Linked DNA regions of Homo sapiens. The protein of the gene in region 1 interacts with the protein of each later gene in a biochemical or structural test. Each region holds a gene or a part of one and is shown on either strand. Other genes may lie near its edges. The genes, in order: KIR3DL3 and TAFA2.

Region 1 (12,215 bases):
ATTCAAAGAATCAAAATCATAACAAGGCACACAATAAAAATAGAAAAAAATACCAAGATGATCTCTCAAAACTACAGAAAAACATGGAAATTTAACAACTTGTTTCTGAATGAATATTAAGAGCCATCTATGACAAATCCACAGCCAACATCATATTGAATGGTCAAAAGCTGGAACTGTACCCCTTGAGAACTCTTGGGTGAACAATGAAATTAAAGCAGAAATCACAAAACATTATTTAAAATTAATAAAAATAGAAACAAACTTACCAAAACCTTTGGGATGCAGTTAAAGCAGTGATAAGAGGAAAATTTATAGCAATACATGCCTCATCAGAAGTTTAGAAAGATCTCAAATTAGTGACTTAACACTGCATCTAGAGGAACTATTAAAAAAAAGGAACAGTCCAAACCCAAGGCCAGCAAAAGATGAGAAATAACTAAAGTCAGAGAGAACTGAATAAATTGAGACCAAAAAGTCCATACAAGAGATAAATAAAACCAAGAGTTTTTCTTTGAAAAAAAATAAACAAAATTCATAGACTGTTAGCTAGATTAACAAAGAAAAAGAGAAAAGATCCAAATAAACACAAATAGAACTGACAAAACAATGTTACGAACAATCCCACAGAAATAGAAAAGATCGTCAAAGACTATTATGAACACCTCTATACAAACAAGCTAGAAAACCTAGAAGAAATGGATAAATTCCTGGTAACACAAAATTTATCATATTTCAACCAGGAAGAAAGTGAAAACCTGAACAGACCAATAACAAGTTCAGAAATTTAATCAGTAATAAAAACCCTACTAACTAAAAATAGCCCAGGACCAGATGGATTCACAGCCAAAATCCAACAGCCATACAAAGAAGAACTGATACCGATCTTACTGAAACTTTTGGAAAAAATCAAGGAGTGGGGGCTTCTTCCTAACTCATTCTATGAAGCCATCATCACCATGATACCAACATCTGTCAGAGACATAATGAAAAAAAGAAAACTACAACTAAATATCCTTAATGAACATAGACATAAAATCCTCAACAAAATGCTAGCAAATTGAATCTGTCAGTGCATCAAAAGTTAATTCACATGATCAAGTAAGCTTTATTTTTGGGATGCAAGGTTGGTTCAACCTACAAAGTCAACGAATGTGATTCACCTCATAAACATAATTAAAAACAAAAACTATATGATCATCTCAATAGATGCAGAAAAAGCTTTCTGTAAAATCCAACATCCCTTCATGATAAAAACTGTCAATAGGCATCAAAGGAACATACCTCAAAATATTAAGAGCCATCTATGACAAACCCACAGCCAACATCATATTGATGGGCAAAAGCTGGAACCATACCCCTTGAGAACCGAAACAAGACCAGGATGACCACTCCCGCCATTTTAATTCAACATGGTACTGGAAGTCCTAGCCAAAGCAATCAGGCAAGAGAAGGAAATAAAAGGCATTAAAATTGGAAAAGAAGTAGTGATACTGTCTCTCTTTGCTGATGAAATAATTTTATACATAGAAAACCCTAAAGACTCTGTCAGAAGGCTCCTGAAACTGATAAACAAATTCAATAAAGTTTCGGGATTAAAAAAATGTACACAAATTAGTAACATTTCTATGCACCACTAACATTCTAGCTGAGAACTAAATCAAGAACACAATTCCATTTACACTAGCCACAAAGAAAATAAAATACCTAGGAATCCATCTAACCAAGAAGGTGAAAATTCTCTACAAGGAGAACTACAAAACACTTCTGAAAGAAATAAGAAATGATACAAACAAATGGAAGAATATTCCATGCTCATGAATTAGGAGAACAAATAGTTAAAATCGCCATACTTCCAAAAACAAATTGCAGACTCAATGCTATCCATTTCAAAATGCAATGTCATTTTTCACGAAATTATAAAAATTTATTCTAAAATGTATTTGGCACCAAAAAAAGAGCCTGAATACACATAGGAATCCTAAGCACAAAGAACAAAGCCCAGGCATCACATTACCCAACTTCAAACTATACTACAATGCTATAGTAACCCAAACAGCATGATACTACTACAAAAACAGACACATAGACCAATGAGACAGAATAGAGAACCCAGAAATGAGGCTACATACCTACAATCATCTTTGAAAAAATTGACAAAAACAAGCAATGTGGAAAGTACCCTTTCTTCAATAAATAGTTCTGGGATAACTGACTACTCATATGCAAAATAATAGAACTGGACCCCTAACTCTCACTATATACAAAAATTAACCCAAGATAGTTTAAAGATTTAAATGTAAAACCTCAAAATATTAAAATTCTAGAAGAAAACCTAGGAAATATCCTTCTCAAGATAGACTTTGGCAAAGAATTTATGGCTAACTCCCCAAAACCAATTGTGACAAAGACAGAAATTGGGACCTAACTCAACTGAAGAGCTTCTGCACAGCAAACGAAAGTATCAACAGAGTAAACAGATAACCTACAGACTGGGAGAAAATATTTGCAAACTATGCATCTGACAAAGTTCTAATATCCAGAATCTATAAGGAATGTAAACAAATCAACAAGCAGAAAACCAAAAAACCTCAATTAAGTATGACATGAACAGACACTTCTCAAAAGAAGATGTACACATGGCCAAAAAACATATGAACAAATGCTTATTATCAGTAATCATCAGAGAAATGCAAATTAAAACCACAGTGAGATACCATCTCACAACAATCAGAGAAGCAGAAGCAATTACTAAAAAGTTTTTTGTTTTTTTTAATAACAGATGCTGACAAGATTGTGGAGAAAAGGGAACACTTATACACTCTTGGTGGGAATGTTAACTAGTTCAGCCAATGTGATAAGCAGTTTGGAGACTTCTCAAATAACTTAAAATAGAACTACTATTCAATCAAGCAATCCCACTACTGGGTATATACCAAAAGGAAGGTAATTAACTATGTCAAAAAGACACATGCACTAGTATATTCATTGCTGTGCAATTCAGAATAGCAAAGATTTGCAGTCAACCTAAGTGCTCACCAACAGTGGATTAGTTAAAGAAAATGTGCTACATATACACATGGAACATTACATGGCCATAAAAAATAATGAAATCATGTCCTTTGCAGCAACATGAATGTAGCAGGAGGTCAATCTCCTAAGTGAACTAACCCAGGAACAGAAAACCAAATACCACATGTTATCACTTATAACTGAGAACCAAACATTGAATACACATGAACATAAAGATGGAAACAACAGATACCGAGGACTACAGATGGGGGGAGGAGTAGGGAGGTATAGGCTGAAGAAACACCTGTTGGATTCTATGCTCATTGCCTGGGTGATGGCATTGTTGGAACCACAAACCTCAGAGTCACACAATATGCCTATGTAACAAACCTGCATGCATACCTTTAATCTACAGTAAAGGTTGAAGTTATTTAAAAATAGGAAGAAGAATTACCCTATACCTAAAGCTAAGATTTTTCCCTTTGAATATTCGTTTCTTCATCACTGTAGATAAGCAGGGAAAGAAAAATTATTATACTATACTAGCCTTTTATGTGACCATGAGGATTTGGGGTAGGTAGGTGGACAGCTTAGATAATTCACCAGGATATTGATACAGGCTCCATGGCTGGAAATAACCAAGGATGAGTGCTGTGTTTTGAGTGGTCTCCCCCAGAAACGTTTGTTGAAATCCTAACCCCTGGTATGTATGAATGTGAATTCATATTATATAAAAAGGAATAAATAGCCTGAGCACAGTGGCTCACACCTGTAATCCCAGCACTTTGGGAGGCCAAAGCAGGTGGATCATTTGAGGTCAGGAGTTCTGGCCAATATGGCAAAACTTCATCTCTACAAAAAAAAAATACAAAAAAAAAAATTGGCTGGGTATGGTGGCGCATGCCTGTAGTCCCAGCTACTCAGGAGGCTGAGGCAGGAATTGCTGAAACCTGGAAGGCAGAGGTTGCAGTGAGCCAAGATCATGCCACTGCACTCCAGCCTGGGTGAGACGGCAAGATATTCTGTCAAAAATAAATAAATAAAAAACAGAAGAAGAAATACAAGAATGACAGCAAACTTTGTATTCAAAACTATGAAAGTAAGAAATAGGTGGACCAACATTTTTAAAGTGCTACAAGAAAATATTTCAAACTAGAATCTTTCAACCTGAAAAGGAAAACATTTTCCTGCAATAAAGGTGCCATTAAAAATGTCTCACAATTTATTACATGAAGCATTGTTCTACAATAAATGTTAAGCTCTTGAAGCAAAGATTAATGATACCATTTAGTAACTTGAAATTCAAAAAAGTGGAAGTATCCCAAGAGGCAAATACGTGTGCAATTATTAAATGTTTCATATCAACACCCAACCTTATGCTGTCTACATAAGCTGCACTTCAAATACTAATCCACAAGATGTAAATATTGAAAGAATGACATTACATTGTCATGATAATGCCCAGTGCAAAATATGCTTCTAGTCAGTTGTATACATAGAATAGGTAAATGTTTGTAATAAAAAGTATTCCTCAATAGAAGTTTCTTAACTCAAAGAATGAAATATTTCACCATGCACATACAAAGAAGAGATATATGGAGATATGAAGAGGAGTACTTCATAATGACAAAGAGGCAAATTCATAAATAAGACATAATAATCCTAAATGCCTACACACCTAAAGCTGGAACCTCAAAACACATTAAATTAAAGGCATAATTCAAAACATAATCAATCACATCCAAATTGCAGCTAGAGATAGCAACATTCACCTCACTTCCAGAACAAGTACACAGAAAATTATTAAGCATATGAAAGACTTGAAAAACATTTGTGTAGGCGGCGGGTGCATAAGGTTGGGTGTTGATATGAAACATTTAATAATTTCAATAATCCTAGCACTTTGGGAGGCCAAAATGGGAGGATCACTTGAGGCCAGGAGTTTGAGACCAGCCTGGGCACCATAGTGAGACCCCGTCTCTATTTTTTTTAAATAAAGAAAAACATTTGAATGATTTTTTTCTTAACTGACATTTAGAAAACATCCACCTCAAATCTTCCTAATCCACAAACTTGTCTAGCACCCCTGGAACATTCACCAAAATAAATTTTTAAATGCTGAATCATAGGTAATATGATAGATGAAACAGTTGAATTAAATTATAAATGTACAACAAGGAAATGCTGGGGAAATTATCAAATATTTTAAAATTAATAAACACACATAGCAATAAACAATGAGTGGAAGAAAAACATTTCAAAGAAAGGTGGAAAATATTTTGTATCAATTAAAAATGAAAACACATCTCGGCAAATGACTGGGGATACAGATAGAACAGTGTTAAAGGAAAATAAGCCTCAAATGTCTGTGTTAGAAAAGAAGGAAGAGCTGAGTAAATAGGTAACTTTCGCTTGCAGAAATACTACACATCAGCAAATTAATTCCAAAGTAACGTCGAGGAAAAACATAAAATGGCAAGCAAATATATACGTGCATATGTACGTATATTCATAAATGACAAACAGGACAGAAAAATCAGTGACATCAATTTTGTTCCTTAGAAGAAACAGGAAAATTGACCCCAAAAAACTTTCCAGGCCACATTTGGTCATGATGGAAATATTTTGGCACTTCCTGGTTAAGCTCAACACCAACTTGCACCCAAAACCAATAATTTCATTCCTAGGTAAATATGTCTAATTAATTCAGCATATGTATGCAAGGGATCACACAGAAACACGATTATCAAGGCCCGAGTTATAAAAGAGAAAATCCGGAAACAACACAAATGTCCATGATAAAAAGAGTGGATAATTACATGTTGATAAAGTTATGTATGGACTATTAAACTGCAATCCAAAAGAATAAAATAGAACTATAAAATTCAATATGTATATGGTGTCATAGAAACACAAATGTGAGAAAAAGAAAGAAAAATACAAAATTTATATTTTTTAAAATTTGAAACAACTATATATGTGAGTGCTTAGGGTGTGTGTGTGTGTGTGTGTGTATAACCATATGTATATAAACGCACACATACGCACACATATAGAATGTCCCGGCCAGGCATGGTGGCTCACACCTGTAATCTCAGCACTTTGGGAGGCTGAAGTAGACAGATCACTTGAGGTTAGGAGTTCAAGACCAGCCTGGCCAACATGGAGAAACCTCCTCTCTACTAAAAGTACAAAAATTAGGTGGGCGTGATGGTGGGTGCCTGTAAATCCAGCTACTTAGGAGGCTGAGGCACGAGAATTGCGTGAACCTGGGAGGTGGAGGCTGCAATGAGCCGAGGTCTCACCACTGCATTCCAAACTGGGTGACGAAGTGAGATTGCGTCTCAAAAAAAAAAAAAGTTCTAAAAGTTGTGACTTGGGTGTGGCAGATTGTGACATACTGCCAGCTGCTAGAAATGCTGGGGCAGGAGGATTGCTTGAACTCTGAAGTCAAAGAACAGCCTGGGGAAAATAGCACATGAAGAAGAGTTTGAATCTCAGATAAAAACAACAAAAATACATCAAAAGTCTTTAATGTAAGCCAAGCATTCAGTCATCTCCTGTATGAGAGATTGGATCTGAGACGTGTTTTGAGTTGGTTATAGTGAAGGATGCAAGGTGTCAATTCTAGTTGGAACAATTTCCAGGAAGCCATGTTCCGCTCTTGACCAAACAGCCACTGGGCCTCATGCAAGGTAGAAATAGCCTGCATACGTCATCCTCCCATGATGTGGTCAGCATGTAAACTGCATGAGCCCCTCACAACATCCTGTGTGCTGCTGAACTGAGCTGGGGCGCAGCCGCCTGTCTGCACCGGCAGCACCATGTCGCTCATGGTCGTCAGCATGGCGTGTGTTGGTGAGTCCTGGAAGGGAATCGAGGGAGGGAGCGCTGGGGTGGAGATCTGGGCCTGGAGTGGAGATCTGGGCCTGGAGTGGAGATATGGGCCTGGAGTGGAGATATAGGCCTGGAGTGGAGATATGGGCCTGGGGTGGAGATATGGGCCTGGAGTGGAGATATGGGCCTGGAACTGTAGATATGGGCCTGAAGTAGAGATATGGGCCTGGAGTAGAGATATGGGCCTGGAACTGTAGATATGGGCCTGGAGTGGAGATATTGGCTTGGAGTGCAGATATGGACCTGGAATTGAGATACGGGCCTGGAGGTGGAGATATGGGCCTAGAGTGGAGATATGGGCCTGGAGGTGGAGATATGGGCCTGGAACTGTAGATATGGGCCTGGAGTAGAGATACGGGCCTGGAGTGGAGATGTTGGCTTGGAGTGCAGATATGGGCCTGGAATGGAGACACGGGCCTGGAGGTGGAGATACAGGCCTGGAGGTGGAGATATGGGCCTGGAGTGTAGATATGGGCCTGGAGTAGAGATATAGGACGGAGGTGGAGATATAGGCCTGGAGTGGAGATATGGGCCTGGAGTAGAGATATAGGACGGAGGTGGAGATATAGGCCTGGAGTGGAGATATGGGCCTAGAGGTGGAGATATGGGCCTGGAGTGGAGATATGGGCCTGGAGGTGATGTACAGATGGATCATCCATCATGATCTTTCTTTCCAGGGTTCTTCTTGCTGGAGGGGCCCTGGCCACATGTGGGTGAGTCCTTCCCCCAAACCTTAGGTTGTCATCTCCCCACATAAGATGATGCTCCTGAAACGGGAGGCAGGCGACACAGGGGGTTGACTGATGGGCTGACCATGGGAAGCCATGTGGGAATCTCTCATGAACTAGGAAAAGGAAGCCAGGGGAAGCTTCGCCACAGTTCTGTCCTAGCCCTCCCCGGCCTTTCTTTCCCTTGGCTGAGTCTGTGGGGACCCAGGGGGAGACTGAAGTGCTCAAAGGAGTGGTGTGCAGGGAGGAAGTGGTGTCACCGGCAGAGGAAGGGAGAGAAGCAGTGCAAGGAACAACAGGCCTCTGAGGACAAGAGCATAACTCACACCCTCCAGCGTTTCCATGACGGTAGGGGCTGCAATGTGGCTGCTGTCATTCTACCTAAGAGGTGGGGGAACCACAGTCATGACCCTGACATTCCAGATCTTCTAATAGGGGCTCAGTTGTTTATTATGGTTCATGCATTAGCTGATCATGCCCTCCATCCTGTGTCTACCTTGTGTTCTTTTATGTAAGTAATTTTGCAGTGTTAAAATCTAGTAAGAGTCGCTTCTTCAGCACCTGCTCAAAGTTCTCAGCTGACACTTGCTGTAGGGAGACGCCATGTCTATGCGGGATGGGTCCTTCCTGTAGCCCTGGGCACCCAGGTGTGGTAGGAGCCTTAGAAACGTGGAAATGGGAGAATCTTCTGAGCACAGGGAGGGAGGGGCGGCTCCACATCCTCCTCTCTAAGGTGGTGCCTCCTTCTCCCCCAGGTGGTCAGGACAAGCCCTTCCTCTCTGCCTGGCCCGGCACTGTGGTGTCTGAAGGACAACATGTGACTCTTCAGTGTCGCTCTCGTCTTGGGTTTAATGAATTCAGTCTGTCCAAAGAAGACGGGATGCCTGTCCCTGAGCTCTACAACAGAATATTCCGGAACAGCTTTCTCATGGGCCCTGTGACCCCAGCACATGCAGGGACCTACAGATGTTGCAGTTCACACCCACACTCCCCCACTGGGTGGTCGGCACCCAGCAACCCTGTGGTGATCATGGTCACAGGTCAGAGGCTTTCTGTCTGGGCTTCTCACTGTCCCACCTCCTGAATCCCAGAGCTTCTGGTGGGGGCGTCCATCAGGGTCCAATCATCCAGGCCCCGACTGTATTTGGGGTAAAGGGGGATTCAGTACAGAGAAATAGTTGCTGTGGTGGGAAGAATAATTGTCCCCAGTGATGGCTACATGGTAATCCATGAACCCTGTGACTATTTATGTTATAGGGCAGGGGACTGAAGAGGAAGATGGAGCTCAGGTTGTTGATGAGTTGACCTTGCGATGGGGAGACAGCCTGGACTGTCCTGCTGTGCTCAGAGTAATCACAAGGGTCCTCATGAGAGGAGGAGGAAGAGGAAAGTGGGGTTAGAGCAACGTCGTGGGAGGGAGACTCCATCAGCCACAGCGGGCTTTGAAGATGGGGGAAGGCCATGAGCCACAAAGGCAGGTGGCCTCTAAGGGCTGGAGAAGTCAAGGGAACTGATTCTTCCCTGAGTCTCCAGAGGAAACACAGCCCTGCAGATGCCTTGATTTTAGCCCAGAGAGAACTGGGTCCGATTTCTGTTCTCCAGAAGTGGAAGAGGTCATTGTATTCTCTCCTGCCCCATGTTTGTGACAATTTTCTCCAGCAGCAACAGGAAACCAACACAGGAACCCAGGTGAAGCACAGGTTAAGAAACCAAACAAGGAGAAGGTTGGCTACACTGATTTTAGCATGGGTGGGATACTGATGCTACCACCAGGCTCGATCCACATAGGGAGGGGTTGATGCTCCTGGAACCAGCACCAGGGGCCACCCTATGGAAGCTGGGGCCATGGAGAAGGCACAGACATGAAAGGAGAGGCTCCCAATCCCCATCAGGAACAGGGACACTGATGCCTGCCTTACTGATGAGTTCGTACCTCCTGCCGGCCTTTCCAATCTGTCCAAAAGAGATTGATTCAGGCTGCTAAGAGCCTGGACATGCAGCCTGTCATGGTTCCTCTTCCACCCCCACATAAACACCAGGAAAGAGATTAGTGGGAAACAGATACAACAGCCTAAGAGGTGACACTGAGCACAGTGGGAAGGGAATCAGGGCTACTAGAGACAGAGAGACAGGGAAGAGGGAGGGAGACAGATGGAGGGACCTGCAACAGGGGTTATGGGCACAAAAGAACACGGAGACACAGACAGGAAGGAGAGAGATAGACACCATGGAGGGGAAGCCTCACTTATTTCAGGTCCCATGAATGGGATGAGAAAGGGAGACGCCTTCTGAACTCACAACCTCTCTTCTTAGGAGTCCACAGAAAACCTTCCCTCCTGGCCCACCCAGGTCCCCTGGTGAAATCAGGAGAGACGGTCATCCTGCAATGTTGGTCAGATGTCAGGTTTGAGCGCTTCCTTCTGCACAGAGAGGGGATCACTGAGGACCCCTTGCGCCTCGTTGGACAGCTCCACGATGCGGGTTCCCAGGTCAACTATTCCATGGGTCCCATGACACCTGCCCTTGCAGGGACCTACAGATGCTTTGGTTCTGTCACTCACTTACCCTATGAGTTGTCGGCTCCCAGTGACCCTCTGGACATCGTGGTCGTAGGTGAGAGAATACAGACCTGCCTCTCACCCTTGCTGGGAGATGGAGTGAATGATCTAGGACTGGAAGCCCCAGGTGGTCATGAGGAAGATGAGTGTGGGGTTCCTATGGAGAGAAAGTGACTTGGTGAGGTCTGTACCAACAAAGGCAGAGAAACAGGAGACACAAGTACAGACCTCATGTCATAACATAGAAGCCAGACACAGGGGCCATACAAGGTGTTAGAAAAAGAGATAAAGAGGTAAAGAAGACACAGAGAGACAGACATATCCCAGAGAGAGGTGTCCTTCTATGCTGACTTTGTTCAGAGACCAGGCACAGGTTAGAAGGTTCCATTCTGTTTTACCTCTACAAAGTGTTCTCTCCCAGGAGAACCCAAAGAGACACATCTATCTGGCCTGAGTTGGGCCATGTGGCCCCAGGCTGGTGGCACCTACAGATGTTGTGTTTATTCTTAAACCTCTGCCTTCCGTGCAGTGGAGCTGTCATCGTCCCAGGACACCATGGCCCCAGGTGAGGGAGCAGAACACCAACCCCTGTATGCTGTGAGTTCCTGGAGTCCCCATACTGGATTCTGAGGCTCATATTCAAATAGCACCACATGTTATAGGATTACTGAGAACAAAAGCCCACAGAGAGACACGGAGTGAAATCAGGGAAATCAAAAAGCAAAGACATGAACACACACACAGAATGAGCCAGAAGAAGGGAATTGAGAGACTCACAGACACATAAAGAGATAGAAAAAGAGGGCAGAGAAGTGGAGCGTATGATGGAAGGAAGCAGAGAAAAGCCCTAAAATCAGAGCCCTGAGGGAGGGGCACAAAGACAGGGAAAGATAAAGATGTGAGGATGGATTGCAGAGACTCCAAAAGGGAACTAGAGAGACTGAGAGGCAGAGAAAGACAAGGAGATGGAGAGAGACAGATGATAGATGGACAGATAGATATAGATAGATGAAAGATAAAAGGTAGATGATAGATAATAGAGAGACAGGTGATAGACAAATAGATGATGAATGACTGATAGATGATATAGATAGACAAGTAGAAAGACAGACAGATGATATATAAATAGATATAGAGAGATAGAAAGACAGATAAACACATGATGATAGATGGATAGATGCATACATACATACATTGATTGATAGATGATAGATAACAGAGAGATAGGTCATAGATACACAGATGATGATAGATGATAGATACATACATAGATAAATGATAGATCGATCAATAGATAATAGATAGAAATATGCAGAAAGTTATGAGCAAGACAGAAAGTGAGAGACTCAGAATTAAAGAAAGAGGAAGATCAAGTCAACCAGTCCAAGGAGGGTCAGAGAGAATAAAATGGTACAAAAAAAGAAAACATAGCTAGGGATGGAGAAGTGAGGTCAGAGACCTAGAGAGACAGAGAAGGTGGAAGGAGGAAATAGACATGAAGAGAGATGGGGGTGGAGGGTGAGAGAGAGAAAGAGAGCATTAAGTCATAGAGCAGGGGAGTGAGTTCTCAGCTCAGGTGTGAGGAGAGCTGTGACAAGGAAGAACCTCCCTGAGGAAACCACCTCTTCTTCTTCCAGGTCTATATGGGAAACCTTCTCTCTCAGCCCAGCCGGGCCCCACGGTTCAGGCAGGAGAGAATGTGACCTTGTCCTGCAGCTCCCGGAGCTTGTTTGACATTTACCATCTATCCAGGGAGGCGGAGGCCGGTGAACTTAGGCTCACTGCAGTGCTGAGGGTCAATGGAACATTCCAGGCCAACTTCCCTCTGGGCCCTGTGACCCACGGAGGGAACTACAGATGCTTCGGCTCTTTCCGTGCCCTGCCCCATGCGTGGTCAGACCCGAGTGACCCACTGCCCGTTTCTGTCACAGGTGAGAAAACACCATGCCTGTCCCATGTCTTGTGATCCTAGAGCCATAGCTGAGGAGCTTCCTGCTGATGATGGAGAGAAGCATGGACA
Region 2 (7,000 bases), on another chromosome or scaffold:
CACTTAGTGTCCTTATTCAAGGTTGACAAAATGAATATGGAAGCCTGACAGCTTATTGGACTGGGTTTACAGGCAATTGGCTGCCAGATACGAATTATCCAAGTTCATGGTACCATTTGGTGACAGTTGCCCTCTCAGGCAAAATTGAAAGGAATGACTCTGGCTTCTGGGACTGGTTGGATCTTCCAGAAAAATGGTGGCAATTTCAAGAATCACTGGATTTGTTCATTTTCAGGGAAACTGAGCAGAAGAATACTGAGCATGTGGGTGCCCACTGTCTGCCTCCACTTCCTGCCTAGTCCTCTTACTCTCCCCTAGAAGAACACAAGCTTTATCAGCAACCACCCACTTTGAGAATGGGGCTGGCCTCAGTCCCATTGCAGGGTACCTAGGCCAGAGGTTTATTTTACTTTGATTAATGCATTGAACAAAAAGGCATTAAAAAGTCATATGCAAATAAATGTTTTTGATGACGGCACATACTGCTTCTGTATCAGACTTTTAACAGCTTATTCTAATCTAGTCACTAATTGTTCCTGCTTTACCAAGCATTCACTGACAGAAATGTTCCTACCACATTTAGAAAAGAAATCAAATCTGCATTATGGAGTTAGCATCATTGTATTTCTCGTTTCATGCCTGGTGGACCCCTTATAGAGCTATATTTAATGTACTGCTAATTAAAAAGAAGGGTGGGGGGAAGTGTCCAAAGCTTTCTCAATGTTGTCTTATCTTTTTTGTTTGTGCAGCTCACCATGTTAAAACGGGAACTTGTGAGGTGGTGGCACTCCACAGATGCTGTAATAAGAACAAGATAGAAGAACGGTCACAAACAGTCAAGTGCTCCTGCTTCCCTGGGCAGGTGGCAGGCACCACGCGAGCTGCTCCATCATGTGTGGATGGTGTGACTTCTTCCATTCCTTATTGTAACAGCACAGCCAAGGATGGCTTAGAACTAGAACCCCACTATAATGCTCTCAATGGGAGGTCAATCCTGGGTGAACATACTACAAATACCATGATAAGTTGAAACTAGAATATTTGGGTGGCATTTTGAAATCTAAAATCCTCTGGAAAGAGGTCTAAAATATTATGCAGTTCTGTTACAAAAGGCATTATAATGAGGTTCCATTAAATTAATGTGCATCTTATTTTGATACCATGAAATGTTGATTTCTCGGTGGATGGTGGGAGGTGGATTATGTGTAAATTAATTGGAAAAGGAAAGATGAAAATGGATGATTTAATATTATGGGTTCTTAAACCCATGGATATTCTTAAGAATTAAAAAAAATAGCACCATGTATATGAGTGAACATTTAGTTGTGGATAGAATTAACATAAAATATCAACTTTTATGATGATGCAATAATATATTAATTTTTTTCCTTGAGGGTTCACCTAATTATAGTAGGACATAAATCTTTATATGCATTTATTTAGTTGATGTTACCATAAATAGTAATTTGTTAAGTGCTCATATTACTATAATATATTGCTTGTGATGAGGTTATAGCACACAGTTAAAAAAATTATGATAACTCTGATAAACACCCTCCTGATAACCATCTTATTCATGGGAATATTATATTGATTATAAAGTGTTGACTCTAAAAACTGGTCATAGGTCCATTTTCTTATATATTTATATAAATTGGTGCATATACACATTTGCATAGTTTATTTTCAATATCTTAGCTTTCATGAAGTCTATTTTCACATGAAAATCCTGTAATATTGTGTCTATAGTTAACTATACTGCATTCTACACTTACAATTTTATTAAGTGGATAGATCTCATGTTAAGTGTTCTCATTACAATAAAATAAAAAATGTTTTAAAGAAAATTATTTTAGTTAGAAAATCTTGAAAGGTTTTGTCCTTTTGAACAAAAAGAAAGGCATACCTCAAATACCTGTATTCCCACTGGTAGGAAAAATTAGTGGCTTTTGTTCCTCTTTAAAGGTGAACAAGAGAAATAAGTCCCAAGAAAAAAATGTTGAGTCAATTTTTTTTCTCTCTTATAGCTTCAATAGTGGAACAGAAATGGTGGTGCCATATGCAGCCATGTCTAGAGGGAGAAGAATGTAAAGTTCTTCCGGATCGGAAAGGATGGAGCTGTTCCTCTGGGAATAAAGTCAAAACAACTAGGGTAAGTGGACAGCAAGCTTGGGAAAACAGAATGTCTCTGAATTAATAGAGAACGGAGCTTGTGCAGTAACCAATTTAAGTGGCAATTGTGGAATGGAAGAGTATAGTTTTGCAAGATATGTTTTCCCCATTTTTTTCTTAGTTCGCTTTTTTCATAAAACATTTTTATTTCACTCAGAACAACATCTTCCATAGAGTACCATCAACTGTCATATTATCTGATCAATAAACACTGTTTGCTCCTTCATAAAATACTGAGGGTAATGTGAACCTCCTTTCCCCACTGAGGATGCATGTTAAATTCTGGGAGGGTGACCCCAATCCTTTATTTTTCTAATGTATAGTAATCTAAATAAATTCTGAAAACATTATTTTATATATTACTTTTAATACAGTTTTTTAACTGAGATTCTTTTAGTTTTATGAAAGTAATTATTTTGATCTCCCTGATATCTGAATCATTAAATAGTTTTCTAGTGGTTAAGATTTACAATTATTGTAATGGGCTACTAGGAAGAGTTTCAGATTCTCAAGATCAATACAAAAAGAATATTCTTAAGACACTGATGTATTTCAGCTTTGTAATTACTGACCTCTCGGTGATGGTAGAGAACTGAAAAATAGCTTTGTTCTTTGATTTCCTAATTTGCCACATGGGTATTCCAGACTGGCAGAATTTGAATTCTTTTCTTTATAGAATTAGCAAAGGAAGGTTTTGTTTTGTTTTGCTTTTAGGAAAAGCATACTATAAATTAGAGTTGAATATTTGAAGAATAGAACAGAGTAATGGTATAAATTGATGTTTTATAAAAAGTAACATAAAAGTAGAGACTGGCTAATTTACAATACTACTTGATATAGCAGACTTTTAAACCTTGTCCAGACATATACAAGAGGCTTATTTTATGATCTCATCTAGATATGTAATTTAGTCTGCCAAGTAATATATTTAATACATTGACTGATCAGACATACACAGAAGTGACTAAGTTTCAAATGGCATGAATAAAAACATATTTCATGAAATTTTTCTTGACTCTAACCTGTTAGCTAAGTGTCACACCTTTTCAAAACCCATTGGATGCATGATCAATTAGTTAGGATAATTATATTATTCAGTGAGCTAGCACATGATATAATCCGTATTAATTTGTTAAAAACATTCTGGCAATGTAAATTTTCCTTATAAGCTATTTATACCATGAAAATATTTTCCCTAGCACTATTAATTCTCAGTCCAAAAACAGGACTTAAGGAAATTCATTAACGTTTTGAGATTCTGAAACAAATTTTTAAAATTGTGAGCTCTTGACAACCAAATTCTTTGTTTTTATTACTTCAGTGAACAAGGGGAAGCTATTATTTATTGTATACTTAAAACATATGCCATACACTGAACAAAATGCTTTACATGAGTTAGCTCACTTAATCTTCCTAATAGCCCAGTGGAGAAGATAGTGTTATTATCTCCTTTTACAGATGAGTAAACCAAAACTTCCAAATGTTATGTAACTTCCCAAGGACATATAGCTAATTAATTAGGAAGCCAGGTTTCAAAACATGTAGTTCCATTCCAAAACCCAATCTTTTAACCTGTACTTTGTACTAATAATTTAACTTATTCTTAAGCAATAATGGTAAAAATATCGTATAGTTCTTTTCTTAAGAGGTCGACCTTTAAAAATATCTCTAACTTTCTGGATCATTGAAATGAAAAGGTCAAGACCATGCAGTCTAAATTCTCATGGAAAAAAAAAAATTTGGAAGTGCTGTTTTACTCCCTTTTGGCCTGTTGACCATATTCTCAATGACCCAAATTTAAAATGGAGTGTCTGCTTCACAAATTCTTCCAAATGTAATGAAACAAGGTGGATGAGAGACTGAGAACTCATGAGTAGGGAAAATCACATCTACATCCTATAATTTGTTTTAGTTATAAGACATTATCCTCTATATAGAGGATAGCACTTTCTATTTTTCTTTAATCTCTTTTGTCCCAAAGAATAGCTGGTAATGGAGGACCTTATTTAAGACATTATAGAGGGTTTTCATACAACAGTAGGTGTTTAGATTTAGTTTCTTTTAAGATACCCTCTATTTCTAAGAGTCTGTCACTCCCATTTTGAAAAGAAAAATCATCATATATAAGAGGAGAGAGAAAGACTTGAAAGAAGGAGCTTCTTGAGTACAACCAAAGTAAATTCTTATCCTTTTATTCTTTCACAAGAAAAATGCTGCTTGTGAAAATGGAGCTACTTAGACATTTTCAACCAAAGGAACACTATGGCATTCCAAATAGAAAGGCAAAAATGTGCAATTTAGTTTGGCCCACCAAACAATTTGGGCAAATTTCCCTGGTGCTACAAATGAAGCAAAAAGTTTTCAAGGTCATCAGGCTATTATTGCTCAGCCATCTCCACTGAAATAGTGAAAAGATTGGAGGCGATAAGAAAAATTCTTAAAATAGCTCTAGGCATGTGTTACTTTGCCCACAGTGGAAGTGTTGGATAGAGGAAATGTTGAATAGAGGCAGATAGAAGAAGTGTTTCCATCATGCATAAATAGCACTACTTTTGAAAACAAATTTGAGTCATTATTTTAATCATTGGTATTACTGTCCATATGTCTGTTTTCAATAATGTGGTTGTGATCACCATGAGCCAAAAAGCCATTGAACTCCTGATTTGGCAGGTCCCAGCCACAATTGGAAAGGCCAGAAGTTATGTAGGAATAGGTTACAAAATAACTCAAGAGCTGTCTCAGCCAAAAGCTATTTGCTTTGCTTATGCAAGATATGTTGGTCTTATGGGATTATCACTGCAAGCAAAATGGCTTGAGAAATAATTAAAATATGCAATAATGTACACTCTCCCTTATAATGGCCCATAGCCAATCTGGAGTGCTTGGGTAAGCCTGTTAAATAAATAGCAGTCAGCCAGAAATAGTAATAAGGCTTGCATGGCCTCAGCAGAGATGAGTGGCACCTTCCCGAATTGACTACAAATCAGGGTCTGAGTGATTTTTCCACTTAAGACTAATTTTGAGCCTATATTGTACTTACTACAAATGTGAATTATACTCTTCTTCTGTTTTTCTATCGGATTCTGGAATTTTTTTGGTTCTGACCCATTTCCTATTGGTGCTAACAGGGGGAAAAGGTAAAGAATAGACAGTCATTTTTGGAACTTGAGTGTTTTGTTGCATACCTGTTCTTCACACACCCAAGCATTTAATTTGGAAAGAGTGGAAGATGCAACAGTTGTTTCCCAAACCCCATTTCTCAGTCTAAAGGTGGAAAATTTATGACTTTCTGTGACATCTATAACCGTCTCTTTTATTACTTTTAAGATCTCCTAAGTTAAACAGAAGGAAAGGAAAAGTCATTCAAGCCTTTTGATTTCAAACTCACTTTCAAAGACAAATAAAGAACTTTTCAAAGGGTCATTAATAAAAGAATCATCTTTCCAGTGTGAAAGAGTGCATAATTATAAGCTAATTATACAACACAAAAGTAACAGGGGGGAAAGATGCTGCAGAGCTTGTAAAATATAAGAAAAGAAAATATTTAACATGGTTGAAATCATCGGAAAAAAACAGACTGTGATTCTGTGTGTGTGTGTGTGTGTGTGGGGTGTTTTGATATTCTTTCTTCGTGGAAGATCTAAAGGAAATAATATTCTGTTTTTAGGATTTATAGTCCTTGCCTAATGGTATGGACACCAAGCTACAAAATACAGTGGTCAGTGCAGTTTTTAATGTTGATTCTTACCTAAGGATCAGGTTAGAGAAACTTGGTCTCTTACCTAACTTCGTATTATATAAGACTTTACATTGTTTTTAGGAAGATTACCTTTATGAATCATATGTCCCAGGTCTATTGACTTTTCATATACTTAAGAAGAAATTTTCTGGCTAATTTTTAACTAATTGAAATCTTTCACTTTATGCATTTATTTAAAGTGGCTTGAGCAGATAAGAGCTCTGTAATTTTTAAATGTTCCTTCAAATATAAGTTGATTTTAAAGGTATGCATTATGATATTATTTTATTGTATAATGCAATGAAAATCAAAATATATTAAGAATTTCCTATGCAGCACATTTTATATTAATAGTACTCATATTAGAATTAAAACAACAAAAGCAAATACAGAAGCATTTACTTAGCTCTTACTGTGATCTGGGCACTCTGCTGAGTACATTGCAGGTATTATCTTATTCAATTTACCCAACCATAGTAGATACTAAAGAGAATGCATGGCTTGATCCAAGCCCACAAGGAGTATGCCATTGAATGGAGGAATGAGTAGTGTACAGTTATGTTATTCTTTTCTTTTTTTCTCCTTTTTTTGAGACAAAGTCTTACTCTGCTGCTCAGGCTGGAGTGCAGTGGCACAGTCTTAGCTCACTGCAACCTCCACCTCTTGAGTTCAAGCGATTCTCATGCCTTAGCCTCCCAAGTAGCTAGGATTACTGGCATGCCCCACCACACCCAGCTATTTTTTTTTTTTTTTATTTTTAGTAACAACGGGGTTTTGCTGTGCTGCCCAGGCTGGTCTCTGACTCCTGGCCTCAAGTGATCCGCCCACCTTGGACTCCCAAAGTGCTGAGATTACAGGTGTGAGCGACCACACCCAACCACATTATTCTTTCCTTTACCCATATGCAGTCTATTGACAACAAACACTGGAATCAGTGGTAAATATAAGTTAAGAGTAATATTGTAACAATAGAATAGCATAAGAATGAGGAAGTTGTGCTAGATTCAATTTCAAATTTCTCTAACCAAGGTTTATTCTTGGGTTCCATGTGACAAGAAGATTTCTAACTTCCTTTCCAGCTACATTTAA

The links.
Region 2: the proteins of KIR3DL3 (region 1) and TAFA2 form a complex in vitro, tested with the Homo sapiens proteins (one study listed by BioGRID).

The regions. Positions count from the first base shown.
Region 1 is NC_000019.10:54,717,661-54,729,875, forward strand, and holds the start of KIR3DL3 (killer cell immunoglobulin-like receptor 3DL3 precursor), read left to right. Parts: upstream 1-6,781; 5' UTR 6,782-6,836; coding exon 6,837-6,870; intron 6,871-7,586; coding exon 7,587-7,622; intron 7,623-8,392; coding exon 8,393-8,677; intron 8,678-9,950; coding exon 9,951-10,250; intron 10,251-11,832; coding exon 11,833-12,126; intron 12,127-12,215.
Region 2 is NC_000012.12:61,748,774-61,755,773, reverse strand, and holds part of TAFA2 (chemokine-like protein TAFA-2 precursor), read left to right. Parts: intron 1-749; coding exon 750-902; intron 903-2,027; coding exon 2,028-2,152; intron 2,153-7,000. UniProt on the Homo sapiens protein: Has a role as neurotrophic factor involved in neuronal survival and neurobiological functions.